Linked DNA regions of Homo sapiens. The protein of the gene in region 1 interacts with the protein of each later gene in a pairwise test. Each region holds a gene or a part of one and is shown in the gene's direction. Other genes may lie near its edges.

The links. The genes of interacting proteins can lie anywhere in the genome.
Region 2: the proteins of CYTH1 (region 1) and FGF14 interact in binary tests that used the Homo sapiens proteins (3 or more experiments, as listed by UniProt).
Region 3: the proteins of CYTH1 (region 1) and BDNF interact in binary tests that used the Homo sapiens proteins (3 or more experiments, as listed by UniProt).

Annotation. Positions count from the first base shown.
Region 1 is NC_000017.11:78,673,553-78,681,798, reverse strand, and holds the end of CYTH1 (cytohesin-1), read left to right. Parts: intron 1-756; coding exon 757-828; intron 829-1,454; coding exon 1,455-1,609; coding exon of another isoform or gene 1,610-1,613; exon of another isoform or gene 1,614-4,748; coding exon of another isoform or gene 4,749-4,776; exon of another isoform or gene 4,777-5,629; coding exon 5,630-5,708; 3' UTR 5,709-7,751; downstream 7,752-8,246. UniProt on the Homo sapiens protein: Promotes guanine-nucleotide exchange on ARF1, ARF5 and ARF6. Promotes the activation of ARF factors through replacement of GDP with GTP.
Region 2 is NC_000013.11:101,717,946-101,725,568, reverse strand, and holds part of FGF14 (fibroblast growth factor 14), read left to right. Parts: intron 1-2,601; coding exon 2,602-2,738; 3' UTR 2,739-7,623. UniProt on the Homo sapiens protein: Probably involved in nervous system development and function.
Region 3 is NC_000011.10:27,655,456-27,663,078, reverse strand, and holds part of BDNF (neurotrophic factor BDNF precursor form isoform a preproprotein), read left to right. Parts: intron 1-2,806; exon of another isoform or gene 2,807-2,923; intron 2,924-3,420; exon of another isoform or gene 3,421-4,493; coding exon of another isoform or gene 4,494-4,514; coding exon 4,515-5,258; 3' UTR 5,259-7,623. UniProt on the Homo sapiens protein: Important signaling molecule that activates signaling cascades downstream of NTRK2. During development, promotes the survival and differentiation of selected neuronal populations of the peripheral and central nervous systems.

The DNA of each region.
Region 1 (8,246 bases):
TGGCGCTATCTGGGCCCACTGCAGGCTCCGTCTCCTGGGTTCACACCATTCTCCTGGCCAAATATAAAGACTTTAACAGTGCTAGGACTTGGCCATGGGTTGGCTGGATATCAGGGGACTGTGAAACTGCCGTCAGGCGTGTGCTGGAAGTGTCTGCGGTGCCGTGCCCTCTGTAGATGAGATGGGACTAGTTGGCGGGTGCAGCTCTGTTCTGGACAGGAGTCAAGGTGCCTTTGGAAATCCAGGTGGAGTTGTCAGGATGGCAGTGTCTCTGAGGATTGTACTGTCTGGCGGTGGGGCGATGGACAGAGGCAGTGAGTGGTTAATGGTCAGACCCACAGCTGCAGTCCCAGGCATCGGGGCGCTAGGGTGAAACTAGGAAAGGCTTCCTGGAGTTGTTGCCCCAGAACTGAGGCTTCAGAGGTGAGTGGGAGAGCCAGGCAAAGGGAAGAGGGAAAGGGGCCCGCACACTCCCTGCTTGAGGACCGTGCCCGGGTCACTGCCGGCCACACTCTCACGGTGTCTGTTGAATCTTCTGGTCTTTCTACTCGCGGAGGACTTAGCAGTTATATTGACAATCCTCAGACATTTTTGGTGTTATTCTTGTTTAGAATGTAAGGAGTTCCCTCAGGCTGATTTATGAACTTCATGTCCTGGGAGAAAGCAGGAAAGTTCGGCTGAGTCACCGGCGAGGAATCTGACAGTGTGTGTCCTTAAACTGTGATCTTAAACTTCCTCTCTTCAACTGTTCTGTAGGATAAGGAGCCCCGTGGAATCATCCCTTTAGAGAATCTGAGTATCCGGGAAGTGGAGGACTCCAAAAAACCAGTGAGTATTTTTGCTGAGATATTTTGAGGGGAGAAAGGGGATGGGCATTTCAAAGATTTTTTTTAAAAAACTCAAAACCAAAAAACTGAAAAGCGTGATCAGGCTTTTATTTAGTCTAATTTTTTATTATATTGTTCAAGCCAAAGATGAGACTCGAAATCACTTCTTCCTGTGCCGTCTGTCTGCTTTATCGTTTCACTTAGTGAATGTCACATGGGGTGTAGAAGTTGCCCCTCCTGCAATGGCAGCGGCAAGCACGCAGGAGTGGGCTATGTAGTTTATACCCTTGGGACACCTCCCGTTTAGTTTTCCTTTGTTTTGGGCTGTCAGGATGTTACTGGCTTGAAGTTAAAGTCGTGAGTCACCTGCAGTTCTCTCCGCATTTTACGTACATTGCAAGTGGGGCCAGCTTATATCAGGCCGGTGTGTTTGCAAACGAGACTGACTTCTATACAATTTACAGTCTCTAGAATTCCGCTTCTAGGCTTCACTTTTCCACAGGAAAATATGTATTCCTTGTATTTTGTGAAGGTCAGAAGAAAGGGGTTTTGGGGAAAGAAATCAGCATGTTTCTCAGTTAACAGCTTCCTTTGCTCCACTCTCTCCCTCTCTGTTTTGATTCTCAGAACTGCTTTGAGCTTTATATCCCCGACAATAAAGACCAAGTTATCAAGGCCTGCAAGACCGAGGCTGACGGGCGGGTGGTGGAGGGGAACCACACTGTTTACCGGATCTCAGCTCCGACGCCCGAGGAGAAGGAGGAGTGGATTAAGTGCATTAAGTAAGTGACTGCTGAGAAAGGGCAGTGCGCGCCTGGTGCAGCCCTCACCTCACCAGGTGTTGATCATCTTAGTGGTTAAACATGCCGCCCGCATCTCTTCTGTGCTCCAAGTTCTTAGGGAAGCTTCGTCCTGGTTCCCAGCTGACGGCTTCCCAGGAGGCCTTTGGATTCTTGGCTATTATAGCATATGTAAGAGAGCACGTCCCATCTGGGTTCCCCACGTGTCCTCATAGACCCAAAATAGGAAGAGGCGAGTGAGCTACCCACACAGATGCCATCTGCTCAACTGGTCTTTCTGTGTCTGACGAAGCCGCTCTCATTCTCATAGTGACAGCTCAGAGGAGATAGTAGTCATGTTCTGTAATTTGTGAATCCTGTGAGACACCATTTTCCTAGCTACAGATGAGGAAACTGAGGCCCATAGAGGTTAAGAAATTTGCTGGAAGTCACATACCGTGATCCAAGGTCCGGGAGGAGGGAGAAGCTTCCTCAGGGTTCCACAGCTAAGAAGTGGAGCTCCCAAGTCCAGGCCTCTGACTCCTACCTCTCGGCTCTGTTGGCTCCACTGGGCCACGCCATGTAAGGTCTATCACGGGGCTGGAAATTTCCTCATGTGACAAGTATCTGGAAACATGGCTTTCTAAAGTCAGTTGGCTTCTCTTGCTTAATGTTCTTCCCTGGGACTTGGTCTGCCTGGCTCTCCCTCCAGTCCCTGTGCGAGGGTCAGCAGTGAGCATTCTGACTTTGCCTTCTCTCAGTGATGCTTTCTCCTCCCTCCAGTCCCTGTGCGAGGGTCAGCAGTGAGCATTCTGACTTTGCCTTCTCTCAGTGATCCTTTCTCCTAAGAGCACAGCCTTGCCCTCTCCCTCCTGGTGCTTCATCCATGAGAGTTCACCTAGCTGTTTTCCTGAGAAAGACTCCTCAGCTGCCTGTGTGACTTCACCTGGAAGACAGGGAGAATGTGCCCACAGGTGACTGCGAAGGTCCCTGTAAGTCCTCTGTGTACTGTGTGACGGGCTTTCTCCCACCCAGGCTACAGCCCCGTTCCCGAGGGTGTGCAATATCCTCTAGCCTTTGTTTTATCTTTTGGTATTTCTACTCAGACCAGTGTAGGTTTTGGCCCAAGCTAAATACCTTAAAACTGACTGAAGATGGAGATGATGTGATGATGGAGGGAAAGGAATAGATGATTTATCCTCTCAAAAGTAATCTGAAAATTCATGCAATGAAAACAGACAGGAACCAGCTGGAGAGAGGATGGATTTGGCGCCAGGTCACGCTGCGCTGAGACTCCTCGCTCTGTCTCTCTGAGCGCAGTGCCTGGTAGGTGGGTAACCTACCTCTTCTGTGTGATAGAGGTCATTTCTGCCTCATGGGGCTCTTTTGAGGATTAAATGAGATTGTGTAGTGGGCATGGGGTTTGGCAGCTTCCCTGGCATGACAGCCATCATGGGAAGTGTGGCCCTGAGCGGGGGCCAGCCCACCCTCCATTGAGCAGACGCGGTGCCACGGTGTTTTCAGAGTCCCCTACCAGTAATGGCACCAGCCCTGTGTTCTGGGGAAGAAAACAGCAGTGTTGTGGGGGACCGGTATCCTTTTTTTTAACATACTGAAAAAAAAATTTATTGAATCATTATGAAATGTATTTTTTATATAAGATTTGAAGTAAGGGTTTAAGTTTGTTCTCATGAATGAATAGCTGATGGTCCGGACACCATTTATGGATTCATTGGCATCGCCCCCACTGACTTCATATGCTCTCCTTAGAGTGTACCCAGCTCCCCCACCACGCTTCATGCACCTGTTGCTCCACCGCGCCTCCCAGCGTGAGCGCCGCCCGCCCCTCCCCCTGTGGCATCGTGGTGTCCTTTGACTGTGCTGGCTGGCGAGTTCCCTGTCCTCCCTCACTGGTCTTTCAAAACAGTTTTGGCTGGTTTTGTACATGTGTCTTTCATATGGTTTTTACTTCTATAGTCAGAAAAACTAAGCATTTTTCAAAGTCACATTTAGAATCATTCAATCCTTTCATGAGCGTGAGTGCCAAGTTCTCCTGTGGGCTTGCTGGACTCCTCTGCTCTGTCCCGGAGCGGGCTGGCCTCAGCCTCGGGATCTGCAGACACCCCCTTTGGCACTCTGCAGGCACACTGTCCTCAAACCTTCTTGCACCCAGTGCGAGGTGGGACCATTAGGATTATCCCCATTTCACAGATGAGGGACACTGAGGCACAGCAAAGTTGAGTAAGTTGTCCAAAACCCCACAGAGGTGGAGCTGGTCCTCAAACCTGAGCAGTGTGACTCATGCAGCTGCACTGGTAACCACCGTGCAGCCTCAGCTGTCCTTGGCCCTAGATACTCCTCCCAGTGGAAACATTGGTGACAACAGGAGCAGGAAGATGATCTGGCTGGTGGATGCCTCCTCCCCAGTATTGCCAGAAAGGCTTTCGAGGTCAAGTTCAGGACGTGTTTTCCTCTCACGAAGTGCTTTTCCTGGAGTTCCCAGCACCCTCAGTTCTAGTGCCCCTGCGTGTGGGTGGTCCCAGCATTCGGTTCTGTAGAATCAGGTGTGTTCTCTAATGCTGGGACTTTCTTCACGCTGTACCCAGAGGTACAGCAGTAGAACTGCGTGTCAGCGGTAACAGCGGCTGCCATCGAGTGTGTCGGCTAGGCGCTGAGATGTGCTCTTTGAATATGGGATCTCTTTTTGACTCTCCGGAACCCAGGGAGGTGGAGGTGGGGCATCTCCAGCTTGCATGTGAGGAAGCGGGAGTTGAGAAGCAGCAGGCAGGGCCAGGCAGGGCCGGGCCTGGGGCCTGGTGTCCGACCGCAGCCCAGCCCCCCTCATCGCCTGACACTCTGCCTCTGCACACAGGGCAGTGCCACACGCACCTCTCTGCAGAACCCCCCAGCTTACCCGAAAGGGTTGGCCTACCCAGGAAGCCAAGGGAGATTCACCCCAACACCTCCAAACATGAAAGCAGGTGTCCCGGCCGCCAGATTCCCTCGTGAAAGCACTTCAGGTGGTCAGACCGCTTCCCAGTGAGATCCCATCGGGACATGTTTCTAGTGCTCTTCAGTTCCTAGCATTCCCCGGGGAGCTGCGGAAGCATTTTCTCATGGACACACTGTCTCTTGTGAATAGGTTCCAGGTCAGCCCAGGAGAGCCATAGCAGCTGCTGGTGCCACCGTTCAGCAGGGGTGAGTGCCCTGCCTGCAGTCAGGAGGCTTGTGCCCGAGCTCTGGAACAAATCATCACTTAGGATACAGCTTCCCTGGAAAGAAATTAAGTGTCAGGACTTTTAGACCATAAGTTGCTTGAAAGTCGAGAATGGCAGACATAGGGTTGTGGTGTTGCCAGTCCACTGCAGGTGCTCCAGCCCGCGGCGCGGCCTGCGCTGCTGTCTTTGAGGCTGTAGCACAAGCATGAGCTCGGGCCCCCTCCCTGTGCACCGGAGACCCAGCCAGGTCCAGCCGGTCTGTCCATGGTGCCCCACCAGCAGCATCGTGCTGGGCAGTGCCGCCTGCAGAGTCATGGAGCCTTAGTTACTGAGCAGGTGCACGTGGGGGGCTTGGAAGGCCCCACTGCATTACCATGCCAGCTATCACACACCCCGTGCCAGAGGACTGCATGTGACACGGCTTGATTACGTGGCACTCGCTGCTGCAAAGCAAAGTCAGATGTCATCATGGAAACTCAAGCACCAGTCTTTTTCTCTGAATTGGAATATAGCTGTAAGAATGTGGTATGATTCTGTTCCTAAATGTGAATTGATTATTATGTTGAAACAGGTAAAAACCCCAAAATTTTCTTGTCACGTGTTCCTGTGTCTCTTTCGAAGTGTGTCACCTTAGGTCACTGTGTGGACACAGCAAGGGTGGAGGACGCTAACTTGGCCTTTGCAGTGATGGTGGGGTGGGACAGGTGTTCTGGGGCACGAGGGGCCCCTGAGAATCCCCTGCCTGGGTGTGTTTCTTCTGATTCTGTCCCTCACGTCTCTGTTTTCTCCCTTTTCTGTGCTCCAGAGCAGCCATCAGCAGGGACCCTTTCTACGAAATGCTCGCAGCACGGAAAAAGAAGGTCTCCTCCACGAAGCGACACTGAGCGTGCAGCCAAGGGCGTTGGTCTGCGGGGGCCTTGGAGCTCCTGCTCTTCTCCCGCACCTCCATGGATGCACTGCTGCCGAGCAGAGCGTCCTCTGCCAGGCCCCGCCCTGGATTCCTAGAGACTAGCTTCAGCTTTTGCTATTTTTTTTAAGTGGGAGAAGGGTGGGCAGTTATCACTGGGGAAGAGAGGACCGGCCACCTGTCCAGCATGGGCTCCAGAGCCTTCCTCTCTCACAGGGCAGAGCTCTTGTCGGCAGGGCAGCCTCCTGGCCAGTTTCTCTGCTCAGTGTTCTGGTAGCAGAGCTCAGAGCCAACTGTTTACCTCTTGGTTGTCCCCGTGAAGAAGCCTTCAAACCCTGCACCATAAATACATGTGTCCATATATTATTATATGTTAAGAGAAAAAGGTGGAAAGGAAGAGAAGCCACATACTATAAAGATCTATTTTTTTTTTTTTAAGAGAGAACGTAGGGCTGTTCAGGTGCATTCTGCCCTGGCTGCGCTGGGGAGCTTCTCCCTGGAGAAGAGCACCTGGGGCTGCGGCCAAGGGGCATCAGCCTGGGCCCGCGGCAGGGCCTGGCCTGCCTCTCCTGTGCTGTGGGAGCTCGCTGCCTGGTGCTTGTCTGGGCGAGATGGACAGGTGAGGTCGAGGACGCAGAGGGCAGAGGCCCAGTGGAGCCTCAGACGGCACAGTCAGAGTCGGGGGCCTGCCCTGGCCGGGGTCGCAGTCGGCAGCAGCGTGCAGTCCGGCATCTCCCGCGGATGCTTTTCCATCCCAAGTGCCTGCGGAGCGCCGAGGAGAGGAGAGAGCTGACTGGACGCTTACGTTATTTTCCTCCTTCAGAATCCAAGTTCTTGTTGGGCTTTAAAGTAGAAAGTCAGCATTTTCCTTGAGCTAAATACCTAATAACCAAAACTGTGAGGAAGGTTATCGGGACAGAGGTTCCGGATAACCTGTTTCATTTTGGGTTTTCTTCCTCTTCCCCAGACTCCAGTCCTCGTTCTAGAGGAAGGAGTAGGACTTCCCCGATCCCCGTAGGGCTTCAGCTTTTTCTGCCTCAAAACCAGCCCTAACTGGACTACTCTGGATGCATTTTGTGGTGGGCCCCCTAGAGGGGAAGATGGGCCTTTATCTGCTCCGTGGGGTGCACTGGAGTGAGGGGGGTGGCCGGGCTGCCTCTCGCATCTCTGTCTTCCCCTGCAGGCGCTGTGTGAGCTGGCCCTGCCCCTCCTCATTACAGTATGAAGGGAGCCGTGACACGCAGCATTTTCCTGCCGTTCTCTCAGGGACTCTCAGGGCAGCTCCTGCCACTCCGCCAGGGCCAGCATGCCAGTCCAGGCAGAGCAGGTGGCTGGCTGTCTGGCCGTCTCGCCCCGCCCCTCCACAGGACCCTGGACCAGGGCGGTGCAGGGCGCAGCCCTGAGGAGGCAGGTGGAGGAGCTGCGGGTTTTCACAGGGCCGCGTCGCCACGGCTCCTCTGATCCTTTAGGGTTGGCGAGCATCTCTGGAAATAGCTTTTGCAGAGGAGTGGTGGGAGGAATAGAGGGGGACAGTCTGTCACCTCCCTCCCCGCCACTTTGTGTAGATCCTACCTGGAGGGAATGGCTTTAGGCACTTTTGTGCCAGAGCTTGTGAGGGTGACAGAAGAGGGTCCAGGCTGGAAACCTGAACTTTCTGGGTGGGAGAACCAGGTGGTGCCTGCCGAGGTCTGGGCGTGTTTGGGCCGGTGCTGGAGCCTGTCCAGCTGGCCCGGGCCCTGGCCTGGTTCTCAAGTGTTTCCTAGACAGAGAGGCACCTGGGTCAGTATTAGTCTATTTATCAGAGGTGTAAATAATCTATGTATAGTTTTTCTCCTTTTAGATTATTTTGTATTTGTTTAAAAGAAGTTTTGTCAAAATACAAAAATATAAAGAAATGACTGAAAGTTGTTGACAGGGTTTTTAAGAAATAATTATTCTAATTGTTTTTGTTTGTTTGTTTTTGCCTTGTAAACTAGCGCCAAGGAACTGCAGCAAATAAACTCCAACTCTGCCCAAGCCATCTTTGTTGTTCGCGGTGTCTCTGGGCTCAGGCGGGGCCCTCGAGGTGGGAAAGGGGTGCTGACCGGACACTTGTGCAGGAGGGTGTTACTCCAGCTGCACCTTGAGTTCAGTTGTAACACCTTGAAAGTGGGAGGAGGGTTCTGTCTTCTGTTAAGAAGAGCAGAGTCAGAAAAGATAAGTAACTTAGTCTTTGCACCGCCCCCACTTTTTTAGAAGAAACGTGAAACATCAGTTTTAAATTAAGATCAAGAAATATGCCTTCAGTCAATATAATACATTTTTAGTATGATTTCAGTTTCCAGAGATGACTTCATAATGCCAGGGAATAAACAGGGAAAAGTCTCAGGTGGGCTAGAACCCAGAAGCAGGGGAAGGCGCTTGGTGAACCAGCACCGAACAGAGAGACAGCAAAGCACCAGGCTGGCCCCTTCTGTGGGTCCATCTCCACGGGCTGGTCCGCGTTCTTCCACACAGCAGCAGTCATGCCTGATGT
Region 2 (7,623 bases), on another chromosome or scaffold:
CATCATCTGTGAGTGTATAATTTTCAATTTGCCTAAATTCAGAAAATCGCTCTTGTTGGCTAATACTACTTCTGTAATTTCAATGATGTTGACTTAGTGTCACTCTTAATTATATTTTTCTGTAGAACAATTTATTGAAACCCAAACAGTTAGCTACCAGGGCCTATACAGGAAAAGACAGATTATTCCAGAGTCTGAAATATGAGTGAATTATTCTCAGTATATGGTGGATCATAAGGATGATTAGAGTAGAAAGAAGTTAGAGGATTTCCCTGTTCCTCCCAAAAAAAACACATCCATGATACACTTTCATTGTTTTAAATAAATTTTGATAACATTGGACTCACCTATATTTAAATGCAAATAAAAAATTAAAAAATAAGCCCACAGAAGCTCTAATAAGACCATTGTTTATTTGCCACCGTGCTTTATCTCTTTTCACTCATTTTATGTTTTGTAAATAGTTAAGAATTGACTAGATTTTTAGAACCTTACCCTTTAGCTGCATAAATGTAACAAAACCCAAAAGGGCTGTTATGTCATTTAACCGAGGTAAAATTTGGGAACCAGTTATTTTGCATATCTCATAGAAAATATCTGAGACAACAATGATGTGGTATAGAATGATACTTGGTATTTCACTCATGTATTTGTTATGTGTATATGAGTGTTTTGTGTGTATATATACATATATATATATGAGAAAGAGAGAAATAATACTTTTTATGTTTTCAAAAAATTAGCAGAAGTACTCTAAAAACAGTTAAGGGGGTAGGTACTATAACGACAGAGATTATCACATTGTTTACTTGATAGAGGAAAATTAATTTCAAACTTTCAAAACCCATACCGAATATAAATAATGTTATTGGAAATGTTTGACAAATTAAGTACCTGGTTAATTATTGGTACTCTAGGGCATTCATATCTTTGTTTTATATATATATATATATATATATATATATATATATTTTATTATTATACTTTAAGTTCTAGGGTACATGTGCACAACGTGCAGGTTTGTGACATATGTATACATGTGCCATGTTGGTGTGCTGCACCCAGTAACTTGTCATTTACATTAGGTATATCTCCTAATGCTATCCCTCCCCCATCCCCCCACCCCACAACAGGCCCGTGTGTGTGATGTTCCCCTTCCTGTGTCCAAGTGTTCTCATTGTTCAGTTCCCACCTATGAGTGAGAACATGTGGTGTTTGGTTTTTTGTCCTTGAGATAGTTTGCTGAGAATGATGGTTTCCAGCTTCATCCATGTCCATGAACTCATCATTTTTTATGGCTGCATAGTATTCCATGGTGTATATGTGCCACATTTGCTTAATCCAGTCTATCATTGTTGGACGATACAACTTCACTACATAGAAAATCAAGGTCAATGCTTCATGCTTTTGTCTGCTAATTTAATTAGTAATAGGAGTGAGGGATTGGAATGTGCTTTCAGGATACGCATTAGTTCCTTTTGCTACCTTAGCAAGTAATTTAATAGAAACCTTATGTACATTTGCACTTTCAAGTATGTGTGCTGATGAAAACTCACGTGATGCATTGATACTAAAGGCCACATTCTACCCCCTTGAACATAGGGAATGCATATGGTAGTTCATCTTAACTAAATCTAAGGGCTCTTCGTAAAATACCTTAAACTTTCAAAAACCTAAAAAGCAGTTTGGGCAGCTCTAATGCACTTGTATTTCTGATGGCAGATGACTTTAATCCCTAGTTTTCCCCAACCATCAGTCACTCTTATATGTCCTTTCTCAGGACTTCCAGAAATCATTTTCTAAAAAGCCACGTGAACTACTATGATTATGCCACCAGACACTATTTAGATAAATCCTCAGAGTTTATTCAGGTAGTTTCAGTTGCTGTCTTGCCATTCTGTTTTCTGCCCCTGTATCATGTCAATTATTAGATTTTTAATAACATAGCAGAAAATGAGTTGCCTTCTGCTGCCCAAGGGTCTTTTTCCATGATTGTAGGAAATGAACATTGAAATGATAATCTCCTGAAGGCTCTGGCTTATGGGAAGAGAGTTATTTGTTATTATTTTGTGTAGCTTTGAAGTTGACACTAGTATGACTATGTTGCTTTTGAACCACATGAAAGAAAGTAATTTAATGTTCTAGGATGTAAATACCGCAGCTCACAAAGATTGATTGAAGTGAATGAGAAGTTCATGTGTTGATATTAATGTGCAGTGGAAGGGATGTCTGAGTTTTCTTTTTTTGAGAATTAAGTTAAATGCCTGTCATTCTCCTATAGTGTGTGTGTGTGTGTGTGTTTTACATCATGGACCCACAAAGAGGCCATAGCTCCCATTTAAACCTGCTGTCCTAGACAAAAATCCATGCACACTCATATACATATTTTAGGTATACAGACCAGAGAATGTGAAGGGAGTAATGTCCTCTGTGGGCTGGAAATGATTGCTTTACAACAGGAATTCTGTCTCAATGGAATTGCTTTACTTCAGGGAAAACAGAAATGGGCAAACTGCAGTGGTCTATGCAGGTATGGATGGACCATTCTCACACCTAACCAAGCAATGTTTGCTTTTCCTCCTCCTTTCTTCCCATCACTAGTTGCCATGTACCGAGAACCATCTTTGCATGATGTTGGGGAAACGGTCCCGAAGCCTGGGGTGACGCCAAGTAAAAGCACAAGTGCGTCTGCAATAATGAATGGAGGCAAACCAGTCAACAAGAGTAAGACAACATAGCCAGATCCTCACAGGTGTTGTGACTTATTCGTCCTGAGCACAGTTGAGTGATTTATCCTCACCAGACATTCCTGCTCCGTGGCTGAAGAGCAGCAGGAAGTAAGCTAATGCTTATTCTTTGCTGTCTCCGAACTTCTCTGTTGCAAGTGGATAAATCTCAACCTGTTGCACCCCCCACAACAAGAAGACACCTGGATAACCAGCTAAACTCAGACCATGGAATGCCCTACCAGATATGGAATGCCTTTTTAATATCTTTTCTGTGACTGTGACACTTCATGTGAATGACATACTTCACAAGTACACTCGATACCTTGCCTGCTGACAGCTACCCATAATCCTTTTTGAGTCCTGTTTCAGCGAAATCTATGTGTTTAAGTTCAATTTTGTAGCACACAAATAATATTGAGTAATTTCTAGTTAGACGCTGTAAACCTGTGCTATTACGGATTTCTCTTCTTCCCATTTTTACAGGGCTGCTCGCTCCACTGTCTGTGACCTTTTGCAGGGATTTTGTTCCTCTAAATCTTAAATGTTGCAGTTGGCTTAGGTCGGAGAGCAATCAGGGAATCAGGAAGCCTTCTAAACCTATTATTACAAATTGCATCTATAAAGAAAGATTAAGAAAGATTGTTGTCTCTGGCTCACACTATCGATTAAACACACATATACGCTCTGTCCAGTAGCAGATACTGTGCTCCCAAGGTCGGCATTGCCTGGGTGGGAAATGGCTCAAACACAATCCAGGGAAGCTCTCTATGATATGTGTTTGACATCCCCCTCTAGTTTCTTTGTGTGTGTGTGTTTTATACATATCACAAGCTTACTGGTAATGGTAACATTTGCCTTGCCCAGCGAGCAAGACCCACTGGTTTTTGAGAAAGTGGGTCCAAAGATTTCTGTAGGCCTTGTAGGCCTGATTAAGGTTCATTTTTCATCTATTAATTCTCATTATTTGGAAAAAAAAAAAAAGGAAAATCAGTAATTATAACCTACAAGAATTGCGCTACCTAAATCCATTTCAGATATACTCCGTCCTGTTTTTAATGAACCAAACTTAACGCCATCCCCGTTTCTGGCTGCGTTCCCCTCATACTCAGCAGAGCATGGGCAAGACGGCTGTTGTGTTCTTTCCTGCAGCAGCAATGCAAACGTTAGTTATAAATTAATTAGACTTTAATATTTTTGGTGTTTAATGACAAGTTTTTAAACTGGACATATTAGGAAAAATATTTTTTTTAGCTCAGCATGCTGAGTCCGGTACTGTGTATTTCACCAGTACATGCCTCTAGCTCAGCATCTGGGGCTCATGTTGCCCAGTGGCTGGGTTAGAGGTGCCTTGCCATGATCTCAGAATACAGTCTGTTGAATTATCCTAGATGAAAATAAAGGCAAACCAACACATTCATCCATGAGGATTTTGGTCCATTCCATTTATTTTCTTTTATTTTGCATTCTTAATTTCCTTTTTAGTTTAACACTGTTTGTTTGAGCTTAGGGAAGACAACTACCAAGAAAGGCCAGGAACAGTTGACTACACAATGAAGATTCCATGCAAAATGTTCAATATTGGATCTAAAGGGGTTCAAAATGTTTCATACTAAACTGTTTGGGAATTTATTTGTTAACTCTGTGTACACCTAATAAAATTCAATGTTTTCTTCTCAGAAGAGTTCATTGAGACCAAACTGAACCTCATTTATTGAAAATTATATGTGGGATCAATGTACTGGCCTCTTGTTATTCTTTCTATGTGGGAGGATGACCCAGTCATCATTTTCCCCATCTGCACTGTATTTATTGGGAAATTATTTTGTCACTGCTTTCATAAATCTTCTTCATGACAGCCCTTGCCCAGCATTAAAAAATTCTGGCCTGCTTAGCTGATTAAAGGTTTAGTAGAAATTTAACTGTTTGTTTATGCTTATTTCATTTTCATATTGGATTCTACTTGAATAAATAAAAAGTTAGCAGAACGTTTGAGTAGATTTATTGCCAATGATGCTAAATTACAAATCTAACAAACAAAATGATTCCTTTGGTCATTTTTGATTTGGTGTTATGTCATCTTGAAGCCTATTGTTTTTAACAGGAACAGTTAAAATATATTAGATAACTTCCATTAACCAATTATTTTCAGAAAACATAGATCCCATAATATGTGGCCAACTATATGAGTAATTAACTAACTTGTAATACAGTCAAATGGGCTTATGGACACTACTTACAGCAGCAACACTTCACTTCACACAAACACACACATATACACACACACACACACACACACACACACACACACAGAGCAAACACCCCCATCTATTTGTTACTGATAATTAGCCCTACTTGCTGGTTTCTTTTTCCCCTGCAAGTCTGTTTATTGGTTTAAATTAAGACAAGATTTATTTTTGTAAATGACTGAGATTTATGTAAATGTGTATCTCTGTTGTGTTTTATATATGGGGTGTCTATAAGGGCATTTATCCCTATGAAGGATGTCAAATACTTTCTTCTAATATATGTTTAGACATATTGCAGAGGGGTCCTTGTTATTTGTAATTGAGTTAGGTCATTTACTTTGTGTCTGGTCTCACCTGTAGCATGGGAAGAGGACAGCAATGATGAGCTGCATGTAGTAGGTACCTGTGTATCAAGAACTGTTGGTATGTATTGCTAATTTGCATACAAAGAGTTTGTCTGTCTGCATTGTAGTTTGTGTTTAATATCATTTGTTAAATTCACAAATACAACATATTGAATAAAATATTTATATGAAGGCATATTAAAAAACATCAAACAACTTTATGTAACAAAATGGCATTGCATTACTCACCAATATAGAGAAATGTCATGTAAATAAGTTGGTAAACTCAATTTCCCCCTTTACCATGCCAAAGAAAATTTTAGCTCTTTGATGATACCTCTCTTGCTATTTGTTTGGGATAAGACTTCGCCATTTTTTTCCCCTCAGAAATTAAGTTTGCTGTTATTAAGTAAGAAGTGCAATCTGTCACTACTGATGTTCCGTATAGTAAATCTGATGGAATTCATTTGTATTTAGACTGTGTGTTTTGTACCTCCATGTGCATATGTCCATTGTATCAAGTCTCTATAATACTCCATTCCTTCTGCATGCATATCTGGTGTGGGAGGGTTATTTCTACTGATTTGTTATAGTAGCTGATTGCTTTGCCAGTCCCTCAACAACGCTCAGAAATGTTGTTTTGGTATTTCAAGTGACAACATTTTTGTTTTCTAATATAAGATTGCTTTTTAAAACATTTTGCTACCACTTTACTTGGAAAAATTAGAGAAGACATGACAATTCTCCACCCTATGTAAAGAGCAAAATGGAACTGAACATCATTTCATTACAAATCCTGAAGAATTTGGAGATTCTTGCTCTAAATGTTTGCTTGTCCTGAATGTTTTTGGGTAGCAGTGGCTTAAAGAGATCCACGATGGGTCCAAAGGACTCCCGCTCCAGTTCTTCTAATAGTTTGCCTCTTGGGGAGCAAGCAGAAGTTCTTTATCATACCTAGCCACTTGCTTAATTAATGCTTTAAGCACTAAAAGTTGTTATTTTTATCAGGATGAACAATATCAGATTTGGTTGTCTTTAAAAGCAAAAACCAAAAACTTATTCTTTAAGTAAGTTAGACACGTATCACTTCATTTAAAATTATCTCCCTAATATTATGGATCATTAATATTTGATACATATTCAAAAAGAGACCACATTGACTAACATCCAGTTGAGAACAAGATGAAAATAATTGAAATATTTTTTCCATTTTAATTCAGAACAAGGCTATATCAAGGGAAAGCGACTGGGCTAAATCCTCAATTTTTTTTTCCAAAATGCAGGCATATCAAAATCCAGGATGTACATGGTCTTACTTTGAGTGAAATAGTAGTCATAGCTGAGGTTTCTTAGCCTACAATGTGACATAGGGCCTGTTGACTCTCTTGAATATGGAGTAGGGTTTCAAAGTGTTGACAGTTGAGTCTGCAAACTAAGGCTGAGTTATATTTTAGTTTTTTTTTTTTTTCCTGGTTTTCACTAAGTCTAATTCCAATGTCTACTGGCAGAGATTGTGTTTGCATTTGAGGTAGTGGAGGGCGGTACTTTCCAAGTGCTGTTGGAATCCAGATAAACTCAAGGAGCCCAGAAAGACAACGGGTATAATGGCTCTCCTCTTATGACTTAGCACTTTAGTTGACTTTTTTGAAAAAGTCTCTGGGTGGAATACCTCAGTGATGATGATTTGCCAAACAAGCAGCGTTAGTGCCAACACCTTCTCTAAACTTGCTGCATCCCTTCCAATTGACATTAATCCCACTGCAACTTCCTAAAAACAGGAATGAGCCAATGAGATTTGCTTATTTTCTCTCACCCATTACAAGTAAGTTTGTTCTTGCCCTGCTTGTTTTTTAGAGGGAGTTTCTATCATAGAGTTGAAAATCACATTTAAGAAGGAAAGAGTTTATGTCTTTACATGTAACTATTTTATTTTTTCCAATCTAAATTCAATCACTTCTTAATAGATATATTGGTGTTTGCATTGCTGGCATCAAAACCACACATACACACACAAACACACACATACACACAAACATAGTGGACAGAAATAAGTAAAAATATTTCTGTTTTCAAAGAAAAAGCATTCCTTAGAGTTTAGGTACCATTAACTTCTACTATAATACAGTTCCGGTACTATGGTTTCTAACTAAATGAACACTAGAACAGAGCTGACTATATTTTCATCTTTGTCCAAAATTTTAGATGAATCACATTTTGAACTTTTTATGGTATGATAATTTCTCCAATATCTAAATTCTTTTTCTGAGAAAACAAATGCCGAGGACATTTTTGACACTCTTCTTA
Region 3 (7,623 bases), on another chromosome or scaffold:
AAAAGGCTGAAAACTACAAATTTTGCTATTATTATTGTTATTACTTCCCAAGTCTCTTATTGATCTGTTAGAAATAGAGCTACACAGGAAATTGTAGGACAGTTAGTATGTGGTAGTGTTATCTGCTTTTTAATTATTCAAGTAAGGTTTTATTCCATTAGAGGAACTCAAGAAGTTGGTCATGGCTGATAATTGCTATCTGTCAAATTCCTTAGAGCAGGGATCCGCAACACCCAGGCCATGGATTGTTACCAGTCCCTGGCCTGTTAGGAACCAGGCTGCACAGTAGGAAGTGAGCGGCGGGTGAGCAAACATTGCCATCTGAGCTCTGTCTCCTTTCAGATCAGCAGCAGCATTAGATTCTCATAGAAGCATGAGCCCTGTTGTGAACTGCACATGCAAGGGATCTAGGTTGTGTGCTCCTTATGAGAATCCAATTCCTTATGATAATTTAACTGATGATCTAAGGTGGAACCATTTCATCCCAAAACCATCCACCCTGCTACTCCCAGACCGTGGAAAAATTGTCTTCCACAAAACTGGTTCCTGCTGCCAAAAAGGTTGGGACCACTGCCTTAGAGTTTATAATTTGGGGTTAGCACAGCCTATATTTACCTGAGAATTTCAATGGGTTCACTGATCTTTCCAAATGAAAAGGCTTCTTACGAAAATTATATCCAAACTGTCTTTTCTCTTAGTTTAATAAACCTATCAGTAAGTTTTTACTGAGTACTGCTATTACATTTTTCTCTGTTAAGCATTATGGGGGCTCAGACATGATCCATTCCCTCAAAGAACTTACCTTTCAGCTGAAGACTGACTAGAATGAGCAAATACGGTTAACAATTAACAAGTGAGTAGGCCAGCTCGGCCAACATGGTGAAACCCTGTCTCTACTAAAAATACAAAAATTAGCCGGGCATGGTGGTGGGCGCCTGTAATCCCAGCTACCTCCTGCTGAGGCAGGAGAATTGCTTGAACCCAGGAGGTGGAGATTGCAGTGAGCCGAGATTGCACCATTGCACTCCAGCCTGGGCGACAGAGCAAGACTCTGTCTTGGGAAAAAAACAAAACAAAACAAGTGAGAAGGGAATCAAGTACTACGTAAGATGTAATGTGGAATTTTAGGGAAGGAAGGCAGTGTATGCTGGAGTAATTAGAGAAAGGGGCATGCATGATTTGATGCTTGAACTGGATCATGAAGGATAAGCAAGATTTTGGCAGCAAGTGAGAGGGAGAGAGGAGTTTGTCAGAGGAATGGAACAAGTCAGGAGGCAGTAATGTGTACGGCACTCCAAGGACTCTGTCCTGATCGGAGCAGAAGTGATGAAGCATTGAGTAGTTTGAGAAAGTTAGCTAAGAAGGGTGAGGGCAGATGTTGGAGAGAGTTGAGTATCAGAGAGAAGACATTAGATTTGAGCAGATAGAACAAAAATGCCATTGCCAGTTTTTGTGTAAGAGAATAGTATTAGGGTGGTTACCCAGGAAGTGGTCATCAGAGTTGAATGGAGCAGAAAGAGTGTCTGATACAGCATCGGGACGTTGTGGTCACAAAATGAGGTGGTGAGGGCTGAGCCAAGATGGTGGCAGTGGGATGGATAAAAAGGGATGGCCAGGACAAATATTTTAAAGGAAAAATTAACAGGACATCTTTACTGACTGGATTGGAAGGCTATGCAGGAAATATATTGTCAAACTTGATTCCAGGATTTCTATCCTATGCCTGGGTTGCCCAAAATATCAGGGAACCATTGTTAGAAAAGGTAGGAGATACCACTGTTCCAACAAAAAGTATTGAGTTTGGTGTTGCACCCACTTAACTTCAAGGCCTTACAAGTGAGTAGACAGTTAGTTAGAATTGCAGAAGTGCCACTCAGAGAGCAGGGCTTGCAATGTGGGGTTGGACTTTGTCACCATTGTGTTAATTCCTAATTCTATGCAGATGCTCAGCTTGAGGAATACCCATGTTTGGGCTTCAGAATGAAAGCCAAGTAATATTTACTCAGATGCCAATTTTCCCTCTGAAATATTTGCTCATGGAACTGAGAGAACAATATATAAAGCATTAATTATTTTTCTCATAAAGTTATTAATAAAAAGATAAGATCAGTGAAAGGCAGAGTAAACTAGAAGCCAAGTATAGAAAATGGTATCATTCAAAGACTCATTACTGTAGTGGTGAAAACAAAACAATTTTCCAACAGCTTAAGATGCCTCAGTATTTTGGACCATTTTTAAGTAGTTAGTGTGGGCACTTAGTAAATATGTATTAAACTATAGTTCATTAATTCTTTTTTTTTTTTTTTTGAGATGGAGTTTCACTCTGGTCACCCAGGCTGCATTTTTGCTTTCTTAGTGATATATAAAATGTCGAGTTTCACAATGATGGTATCTTAGATTTGATTAAATATGGTATTAAAAAATAGCTGATCACAGAAAGTCTCTACCAGTGTGATGTAGATGGCTAAAGTATTCCACATTTGCAAACTTTTATTGACCTAAATAAGAGGTGCCCCTTGGGTTGTTTTTATTTGGACTGGGAATATTAGGAGAAAGCTTTTTCATTCAGTGTGTAAGTACAATCTACCAGAAATAGAAACCCCCATGGACGATCTATTTCTTTGATGGTACAGGACTCAGAACATTCACAAAGATTTAGTTGTTAGCGGAATAGACATCTGTATTTTATTCAAACCAATTTTCCCTTCCTAATCTGAGAACATTGTGCAATCTAAGCAGTTCTAAGCATGTTTGCTATTCGTGCAAAGTGAGAGTAAATCTAAAAGAAATTTTTTTGTGTGTTTAGGGATGGTAATAAAGTCTCTTAGTGGTTGAAAATGTTATTTCTTACAAAAGTGGAGAACATTTGCTTTTCAATACCAGAGTTTTCAGCCATTTCTGCATTCTGACCTATTGACTGGAGGTAGGTTGCCTTTGAATTCAGTAAAACTTCATGGGCAGAAACACAGTTCCTTTTCCTACTTATTTGGATATCATGATGGCCATTGCATGTATGTGTCTTTTTGTAAGTCCATGCCTCAGAACTGAGAAGTAGGAATAAAATTAGGGTCAGGGCTGGGGATGCTACTCTTTGCTGCTGAGAAACACAATGCTTCAGGTAAGTGATTCTGAAGTCCTTCACCACCTGACGGTAACCTTGGGTTGGTCCATAGGTATGTTTTCATTTTGCTTGTTCATCCATTTTAATTGGCTTCCTAGAGCATGCTTGTAGATGTAGAGCCAAATTTAGAGTAGAGCAACCCTCTGGCAAACAGGAAGAGATTAATTTTGTGGTATGCTTTTAAGGGACTTCCCAGGAAACTTCAAAAGCAGAAAAAGAAGCACTAGCTGCCTATTCCAAAATGTGTAAAACACCACTCAGCTTTTTAAAAGTAGGATAAACTCAGAGCGCGCGCACACGCGCGCGCGCACACACACACACACACACAGAGAGAACATCTCTAGTAAAAAGAAAAGTTGAGCTTTCTTAGCTAGATGTGTGTATTAGCCAGAAAAAGCCAAGGAGTGAAGGGTTTTAGAGAACTGGAGGAGATAAAGTGGAGTCTGCATATGGGAGGCATTTGAAATGGACTTAAATGTCTTTTTAATGCTGACTTTTTCAGTTTTCTCCTTACCAGACACATTGTTTTCATGACATTAGCCCCAGGCATAGACACATCATTAAAATGAACATGTCAAAAAATGATTTCTGTTTAGAAATAAGCAAAACATTTTCAGTTGTGACCACCCAGGTGTAGAATAAAGAACAGTGGAATTGGGAGCCCTGAGTTCTAACATAAACTTTCTTCATGACATAAGGCAAGTCTTCTATGGCCTTTGGTTTCCTTACCTGTAAAACAGGATGGCTCAATGAAATTATCTTTCTTCTTTGCTATAATAGAGTATCTCTGTGGGAAGAGGAAAAAAAAAGTCAATTTAAAGGCTCCTTATAGTTCCCCAACTGCTGTTTTATTGTGCTATTCATGCCTAGACATCACATAGCTAGAAAGGCCCATCAGACCCCTCAGGCCACTGCTGTTCCTGTCACACATTCCTGCAAAGGACCATGTTGCTAACTTGAAAAAAATTACTATTAATTACACTTGCAGTTGTTGCTTAGTAACATTTATGATTTTGTGTTTCTCGTGACAGCATGAGCAGAGATCATTAAAAATTAAACTTACAAAGCTGCTAAAGTGGGAAGAAGGAGAACTTGAAGCCACAATTTTTGCACTTGCTTAGAAGCCATCTAATCTCAGGTTTATATGCTAGATCTTGGGGGAAACACTGCATGTCTCTGGTTTATATTAAACCACATACAGCACACTACTGACACTGATTTGTGTCTGGTGCAGCTGGAGTTTATCACCAAGACATAAAAAAACCTTGACCCTGCAGAATGGCCTGGAATTACAATCAGATGGGCCACATGGCATCCCGGTGAAAGAAAGCCCTAACCAGTTTTCTGTCTTGTTTCTGCTTTCTCCCTACAGTTCCACCAGGTGAGAAGAGTGATGACCATCCTTTTCCTTACTATGGTTATTTCATACTTTGGTTGCATGAAGGCTGCCCCCATGAAAGAAGCAAACATCCGAGGACAAGGTGGCTTGGCCTACCCAGGTGTGCGGACCCATGGGACTCTGGAGAGCGTGAATGGGCCCAAGGCAGGTTCAAGAGGCTTGACATCATTGGCTGACACTTTCGAACACGTGATAGAAGAGCTGTTGGATGAGGACCAGAAAGTTCGGCCCAATGAAGAAAACAATAAGGACGCAGACTTGTACACGTCCAGGGTGATGCTCAGTAGTCAAGTGCCTTTGGAGCCTCCTCTTCTCTTTCTGCTGGAGGAATACAAAAATTACCTAGATGCTGCAAACATGTCCATGAGGGTCCGGCGCCACTCTGACCCTGCCCGCCGAGGGGAGCTGAGCGTGTGTGACAGTATTAGTGAGTGGGTAACGGCGGCAGACAAAAAGACTGCAGTGGACATGTCGGGCGGGACGGTCACAGTCCTTGAAAAGGTCCCTGTATCAAAAGGCCAACTGAAGCAATACTTCTACGAGACCAAGTGCAATCCCATGGGTTACACAAAAGAAGGCTGCAGGGGCATAGACAAAAGGCATTGGAACTCCCAGTGCCGAACTACCCAGTCGTACGTGCGGGCCCTTACCATGGATAGCAAAAAGAGAATTGGCTGGCGATTCATAAGGATAGACACTTCTTGTGTATGTACATTGACCATTAAAAGGGGAAGATAGTGGATTTATGTTGTATAGATTAGATTATATTGAGACAAAAATTATCTATTTGTATATATACATAACAGGGTAAATTATTCAGTTAAGAAAAAAATAATTTTATGAACTGCATGTATAAATGAAGTTTATACAGTACAGTGGTTCTACAATCTATTTATTGGACATGTCCATGACCAGAAGGGAAACAGTCATTTGCGCACAACTTAAAAAGTCTGCATTACATTCCTTGATAATGTTGTGGTTTGTTGCCGTTGCCAAGAACTGAAAACATAAAAAGTTAAAAAAAATAATAAATTGCATGCTGCTTTAATTGTGAATTGATAATAAACTGTCCTCTTTCAGAAAACAGAAAAAAAACACACACACACACAACAAAAATTTGAACCAAAACATTCCGTTTACATTTTAGACAGTAAGTATCTTCGTTCTTGTTAGTACTATATCTGTTTTACTGCTTTTAACTTCTGATAGCGTTGGAATTAAAACAATGTCAAGGTGCTGTTGTCATTGCTTTACTGGCTTAGGGGATGGGGGATGGGGGGTATATTTTTGTTTGTTTTGTGTTTTTTTTTCGTTTGTTTGTTTTGTTTTTTAGTTCCCACAGGGAGTAGAGATGGGGAAAGAATTCCTACAATATATATTCTGGCTGATAAAAGATACATTTGTATGTTGTGAAGATGTTTGCAATATCGATCAGATGACTAGAAAGTGAATAAAAATTAAGGCAACTGAACAAAAAAATGCTCACACTCCACATCCCGTGATGCACCTCCCAGGCCCCGCTCATTCTTTGGGCGTTGGTCAGAGTAAGCTGCTTTTGACGGAAGGACCTATGTTTGCTCAGAACACATTCTTTCCCCCCCTCCCCCTCTGGTCTCCTCTTTGTTTTGTTTTAAGGAAGAAAAATCAGTTGCGCGTTCTGAAATATTTTACCACTGCTGTGAACAAGTGAACACATTGTGTCACATCATGACACTCGTATAAGCATGGAGAACAGTGATTTTTTTTTAGAACAGAAAACAACAAAAAATAACCCCAAAATGAAGATTATTTTTTATGAGGAGTGAACATTTGGGTAAATCATGGCTAAGCTTAAAAAAAACTCATGGTGAGGCTTAACAATGTCTTGTAAGCAAAAGGTAGAGCCCTGTATCAACCCAGAAACACCTAGATCAGAACAGGAATCCACATTGCCAGTGACATGAGACTGAACAGCCAAATGGAGGCTATGTGGAGTTGGCATTGCATTTACCGGCAGTGCGGGAGGAATTTCTGAGTGGCCATCCCAAGGTCTAGGTGGAGGTGGGGCATGGTATTTGAGACATTCCAAAACGAAGGCCTCTGAAGGACCCTTCAGAGGTGGCTCTGGAATGACATGTGTCAAGCTGCTTGGACCTCGTGCTTTAAGTGCCTACATTATCTAACTGTGCTCAAGAGGTTCTCGACTGGAGGACCACACTCAAGCCGACTTATGCCCACCATCCCACCTCTGGATAATTTTGCATAAAATTGGATTAGCCTGGAGCAGGTTGGGAGCCAAATGTGGCATTTGTGATCATGAGATTGATGCAATGAGATAGAAGATGTTTGCTACCTGAACACTTATTGCTTTGAAACTAGACTTGAGGAAACCAGGGTTTATCTTTTGAGAACTTTTGGTAAGGGAAAAGGGAACAGGAAAAGAAACCCCAAACTCAGGCCGAATGATCAAGGGGACCCATAGGAAATCTTGTCCAGAGACAAGACTTCGGGAAGGTGTCTGGACATTCAGAACACCAAGACTTGAAGGTGCCTTGCTCAATGGAAGAGGCCAGGACAGAGCTGACAAAATTTTGCTCCCCAGTGAAGGCCACAGCAACCTTCTGCCCATCCTGTCTGTTCATGGAGAGGGTCCCTGCCTCACCTCTGCCATTTTGGGTTAGGAGAAGTCAAGTTGGGAGCCTGAAATAGTGGTTCTTGGAAAAATGGATCCCCAGTGAAAACTAGAGCTCTAAGCCCATTCAGCCCATTTCACACCTGAAAATGTTAGTGATCACCACTTGGACCAGCATCCTTAAGTATCAGAAAGCCCCAAGCAATTGCTGCATCTTAGTAGGGTGAGGGATAAGCAAAAGAGGATGTTCACCATAACCCAGGAATGAAGATACCATCAGCAAAGAATTTCAATTTGTTCAGTCTTTCATTTAGAGCTAGTCTTTCACAGTACCATCTGAATACCTCTTTGAAAGAAGGAAGACTTTACGTAGTGTAGATTTGTTTTGTGTTGTTTGAAAATATTATCTTTGTAATTATTTTTAATATGTAAGGAATGCTTGGAATATCTGCTGTATGTCAACTTTATGCAGCTTCCTTTTGAGGGACAAAT